2 separate regions of the Homo sapiens genome follow, and region 1 is linked to region 2. The links come from fine-mapping of genetic effects on gene expression. A gene starts in region 2. The other region holds a variant in brackets. All regions are shown on one strand. Distances are between the middles of the regions.

What was found. PIP is the estimated chance that this variant, and not a neighbour inherited with it, causes the effect.
Region 1: its variant is fine-mapped to the expression of LIMD2 in whole blood (TOPMed, PIP above 0.99).

Annotation. Positions count from the first base shown.
Region 1 is chr17:63,578,999-63,581,894 of GRCh38, forward strand. DCAF7 (DDB1 and CUL4 associated factor 7) reads left to right here. Exons shown (of 7, transcript NM_005828.5): 3 at 339-450; 4 at 827-945. Among named protein-coding and RNA genes, the nearest start is that of TACO1, 20 kb to the right of the region's middle. The variant G/A (reference allele first, on the strand shown) is at 1,789.
Region 2 is chr17:63,698,803-63,701,698 of GRCh38, forward strand. It overlaps LIMD2 (LIM domain containing 2), which reads right to left and starts at 1,323. Exons shown (of 5, transcript NM_030576.4): 1 at 1,230-1,323; 2 at 455-546; 3 at 226-267; 4 at 1-136. The coding sequence starts at 496. It overlaps LOC729683 (a long non-coding RNA gene), which reads left to right and starts at 1,536. Exons shown (of 1, transcript NR_046273.1): 1 at 1,536-2,896. RefSeq lists silencers at 202-431, 522-981, 1,072-2,031 and enhancers at 1,736-2,321, 2,322-2,896, 2,702-2,801.

The DNA of each region.
Region 1 (2,896 bases), 120 kb before region 2:
CTTCCCTCCACCCTCAGCTGAGCTCATCAGCAGCAGCGTCCTCTGTAGCATGGGCGTGGCCTTAGTACACCTGTGCAGAGGTTCCAGGCTGGGCAAAGTGAGAAGACCTCTCCTCTAGGAAGGTGCAGGGATGAAAATGTAGAAAACAAAGCTGGGCAGAGGAGAAAGTATGGGAAAAAGTAGCATTCAGGGAGTCCTGGGTTTATTACTGTTTTTGATAAAAATGTTTTCCCCTCATGTCTTATGTTTGCTAAGATATTTTCTAAACAGGGATTTTTTAAAAGACTTTTTATGAGGATAAGACTGGCTGATTTTTTTTAAAATTCTTGTTCCTTCAGGTTGGTGAAACAGAGACCAGGCTGGAGTGTTTGCTAAACAATAATAAGAACTCTGATTTCTGTGCTCCCCTGACCTCCTTTGACTGGAATGAGGTGGATCCTTATCTTTTAGGTAAGGGAGTTAGGGAGTATGTATTTCAGCTGGAAGAAGCCAAAATAAATTTTCTCAGATGTCACACTGGGCCATACATCCTAGAACAAGGCTCAGTGGGAAGTAGGCTAGGCGTGGAATGTGGTTATTTATTAATTCCTTTGTGTGGGTGAGCTTTCCGTGTGTATAGATCTTGTCTCTCCAGTTAGAATCTAAGGTCCTACGGTGAGGACTGAAGACTTGACTGCCTCGGTGGCTCTGCCGGTAGCCCCCACCTTGTTTTCTGTAGTCTTTATGGTATGCTGCTCCCTGGGCTGAGCAGATGAGTAAACACAAGAGGGAAGCTTGCATGAGAACCTTGGTCCCGTCAGCCCTGACTTGCACTGGTTGTTTGCAGGTACCTCAAGCATTGATACGACATGCACCATCTGGGGGCTGGAGACAGGGCAGGTGTTAGGGCGAGTGAATCTCGTGTCTGGCCACGTGAAGACCCAGCTGATCGCCCATGACAAAGAGGTAAGATGCTTTTCCATTTCGTCTTTCCTCAAATGCTTCCTGTGCCTTCCGCACAGGAAGAGGTCAGCTTGTTCTCTCATTGTTCTGCAATTTATGTAGAAAATCATAACATAACATCTTCTTGTCTAAATTGACAATAGTAATGTATCAAAAACGGGAAAACAACACTATTGTAAACTAATGCTTTTTTTTGGCTAATGTAAATGACCTATTCTACGGTCTGTCATTGTTCTTTTCATGCCAGAGGTTGCTTTTTTTAAATAACAAAGTCTCTTATAGAGGAGCTGGGAACTGATGTGATTAAAAAATAACTTTAGAGTAATACTTATCTTGAAACAGATTAGATTTGGGGAGGAAAGAAGGGAGACAGGAAGAGAAAAAATTTTCTGAGAGACAAACGTAATTATTCATTTTTCTCTATAAATGTTTTACCAAATCCTAGTATGTTCACTTAATCTTTATACTTTCATTACTGTTGGCAGTGGAGGCAATGGAATATATTTTATTTTGATGGCGATGCTTCTGTGTTTATTGGGAAAACTGAGAAGAGCTATTTGTGATTGCTTTTTTTTTTTTTTTTTTTTTTTTTTTTGAGACAAAGTTTTCCTCTTGTTGCCCAGGCTGGAGTGCAATGGCGCAATCTGGGCTCACTGCATCCTCTGCCTTCTGGGTTCAAGCAATTCTCCTGCCTCAGCTTCCGGAGTAGCTGAGATTACAGGTGCCCGCAACCACCCCTGGCTAATTTTTGTATTTTTTAGCAGAGACAGGGTTTCACCATGTTGGCCAGGATTGTCTCGAACTCTCCTGACCTCAGGTGATCCACCCACCTTGGCCTCCCAAAGT[G/A]CTGGGATTACAGGCGTGAGCCACTGCGCCCGGCCAATTGCATTTTAATCAAAGCATTCTTCTCAGTGATTTTGGAAAATCCCCATAAGTCTTTTCCTCCTACAGCCATTGCATGCTCCTGGTACTCTCATCTCCTGTGGGTACTATTTCCTGTTCTTTTCTACCTTACCCTGCACAGCTAGGGGTATTAATATCTATACAGATAAAAGGAATGCCTTGATCTTAGGTCAGAAACTTGAGGTTGTCAACAGCATAGGAAGATGTGACCCAGGTTATCATTCTTAGTAAGGGGTTGTCTTTGGCTTTCTGTACTCCTGAAGGTAAGCCCTGTTACAAGACTTCTAGAGTTGACTGCTGCTAAACCAGGGGTCAAATGAAGAGTTTGTCCCACAGAGAGGACCAGTAAGGAACTTCTGGAAACCCTCTTGGCATCAAGTTGAACAAGCGGCTACATTTTAGTTATATGACAACTTAGCCTGCTGTTGTCTGTTAGGTCCAACCCAGAAAATGGGAACTACTCTTAAGTATTTGAACTGCAGGGATTTAATCCAGGGGCTGCTTATACAGAAGATGGTAAAGCTGAGAAGCCACATAGGTAGCAGTGAGGTCATCCATAGAATGGGAGCAGCAGGAAGCTGCAGCTGCCTATAGGCCAGAGGGACCATGGGAGGAGGCAGGGTTCCTGGAGCCCAGGGGCTGGATTTACCTGGCAGAGACGCTTCTAGGAACAGAGAGAGGGGAGGAGAAATACCTTAGCTTTTCCCTGCCTCCCATCATCCATTTTCCCACCAAAGCCTCCCATGGCTGAACCAGCCAGAAGCAGCCAGCAGATCTGAGACCCTGCCAAATGCACGCTGTAGGAATCAGTTCTCTTGTGACACAGAGAAGAAGAGCAGGGAGAAAGGCCAGGAATGGATCTTGACAGCAGACAGGCCTGGACCGGCAGCCTTGTCTTGAAGGAATAAACCTGAGAAAGGATAGTGGCTCTAGAGAAACAGTAATAGCACCTTTCTAGCACCTTTGATTTTTCTCAGTCCACCTTTCTCTAGGAAAAGACTTGTTTGGAAGGCTCTCATTGATACCTGGCAGATCAGTGTAGAAGAGGGTT
Region 2 (2,896 bases):
GCTTGGTGTGACAGTGCTTGCAGCAGAAGCAAGAGTTGTGGAAAATGAGCTTGTCGGCCACCAGCCGCTCCATGGGGTACACGGTCTTCTGGCAGGCGGCGCAGGTCTCCTTCACCTGGGCCCGCAGGCTGAAGGACTGTGCGGGAAGCTCAGCCAGGTGCTGCCCCAGTGCTCATCCCGCTCCCTCACACCCCTCCTCCCGCACACCCGGCCCCAGGCCCCTACCTTGGAGCGCTGCACCGTGCTGCTGCCGCCGCCTTTGGCGTCCTGAGGGAGAGGGGCGGTCAGGGCAGGGGCAGCTCCGGGAGGCCCTGGATCAGGGCTGCAGCCATCAGCCCAAGGCCCAGGGGCGCGCCGCAGGGCACAAAGGGGGCCGGCAAACTCTGATGCCTCTCCCCTTCACCCCAGGCCAGGCTCCTGTCCGGGGGGCCCTCCCACCCAGCCGGGCACTTACATGAGAGGGGGTGGCCTGGGCGGCTCCTGCAGCCTGGAACATGGCTCGTTGGAGGTGGAAGCCTCGGGTGGAGAAGCGGCACCCGCTGGGTTCTGCAAGGGGAAGTCAGTCGGGAGGGCCCCGCCAGCCCGGCCCCAGCCTGCAGGGTGGGGGGTGTTGACAGGCAGGGGCTGGGGGGATTGCGGTTGGGACTTTCCCTAAGTCATTTCCTGTTGCTCTTGGTCTTGCCACTTCCGCCCCTCACCCACCTCCCCCACCCCTGCTCCCCAGGGGCCGGGGTCCCGAGTGGCACCGTCCCTCGGAAGAACAAAGTTAGCGGGAGCGGAGGGGCCGGGGGCTCCCGCGCAGCCGCCGTGTGCGTCCCGCGGGCTGGGACCGCTTGGGGTGAGGGGAGGTCGGGGCCGGCGGGGCCGCGATGAGAAGCCGCTGCCCCGACCTGACCCCGGCCCTCGCTGCCCTGCGCCGCGCCCGGGCGTCCAGGCCTAGGCTGCGCAGCCCCTGGACAGCGCCCGAGGTCCCCGCCCGCCCCGCCCCTCGGCCCCCGACCTGGCCCCGCGAGGACCGGACCCCAGACCCCGACGCCGCGAGCCCCGCCAGCGGGTCTCGGCTCCGCCCAGCCGGGGGCCGGCCCTGAAACGAGGACTCGAGCCTGTGCGCCCCGGGCGAGAGCGGCTCGCAGACTCGCCGGGACCCCACGGGCGGCCCTCACCCCACACCCCTCGGCGCCTCTCCCGGTTCCGGAGCCGGACGCGGCCCCTCCCCCCGCGGCTCTCACCAGGCCCGGCCTGGGCCGCGGGGCGGGATCGGTCTCCGGGGGCGCACGGGTACGAGGAGGGCGCGGGCGCGAGCTGCTGCCGCTACCAGTGGTCCCCGAGCCACCGCCGCCGCCACCGCCTTATCGCTGCACCGCCCCCGCCGGCCCCCGCCCCGCGCCCGCCCATTGGCTCCGCCGCGCCCGGAGCCGCCTTCGGGGCCCCGGCGCCGCCGCCGACCCCCCTCCGCGCTTTGTCTTCCCCTCGCCGCCGTCCCCGCCTTTGTCTGTCCCCCGCCCCGGCTCCGCGCTCCCGGCTCCGCAGCGCCCCGCGGGCCTCGCGCTCGCAGGCCTCGGGTACCGGCCGCGCCGTCTGCCCATCCCGACGGCGGCCCGGCGTGGGGAAGCAACGGTGGCAGGGACAGGATGGAAGGGCCGCGCTCCGCATCCTACTGGGAGGGGACGAGTTCAGGCTGCGGCGGCTGCGGTCGCGGGACACTGGGCGCTCCCGGCCTGGCTCCGGGATAACCGGGCGGGGCCTGGGCCATTCACTGCCTCGGTTTCCCCCGGTTGGCCTCGCGCGTAGGCGCCGGCGCCCCCATCCCCGCCCAGAGCTGTGGGGCCGCAGAGACCCAGCCGGGGCGACCCCGGAGCCTGGCCCGGGGTCCCTCGGGCGGCCGAGTCCTCCCGCCGCCAGGGGCCGCCCCCGCCCCTTTGCGGCCCACGAGGCTGGCGGCGGCGTCCGGGCACGCGGTCTCCAGGCCCGGCCGCGAGGCTGCGGGGAGGAGCCTGCACGAGGGCCCGGCAGCCCCGGCAGCCCCCCCAGCCCTCGGCGCCTCTGCAACCCTGCGACGGGCTGGGGAGGCCGGTATGCGTGGTTCCCGGAGCACCCGTCCCCCGAGGCTCCACGTACTCAAGCGTTTCTGGGGCGGAATTCTGTGGGCAGCAACGGGGGCCCCCTCTCCAACAAGCGCACCTCATTTCTCACGTGGGAGCCGCGGCCCAGAGAGCTGAGGTGACAGAGCTTGGGCCGCAGAGCTGCTCCCTCCCTGCAGCCGCACAGCAGGCCGGAGGCACAGCCGGCGAGAGACGGCCACTCGCTTTGGAGCGGCGGCGAGGCCGGCGCCTTCCCGGGCACCAGGGACTGCGTGGCTTGGCCGGAAATCAGGCTAGAAGCAGCTCCGGGAAGCACAGCCCTTAGCCCAGCGCCTTCCCACACTGTGGCAGGAATAGCACTGGCGGCCCACGCGCTTGTCAGGGAACAGAACAGCTCTCGCCCGACGCCTGGCAGGGGAGCAGGGAGGCTGCAGCTTCCCCAGCGACCAGCTGTTTCCCAGGCTGGCGGACTCCACGGACCGGCTCCGCGTCTCCTCTCCAGCCTTCTGTTCTCTCTAGAGGAAGATCTGCGTTTTGTCTGCACTGTGGGCCGACTCTCTAGTGGGGAGCGTCAGACCCTCTAAAGTGGCTGCCTCTCGGGAAAGCTTCCACACCTGTCATCAGATTCTCCAAAGGGGCTGTTTGATGCAAGAAACGGGAAGCCCCGGGGGTACTAGGAGCAGGGCTTGCTGCCATTGGGCATGGTGAGGCCCCGGCACCCTGCCCAGGACGGGCCTGTGGGCTGAGCTGCAGATGGGCATTGAGGATGCCCCAACAGCAAGGTGCAGAAGGCATCCAGAAGCAAAGGAAACTGA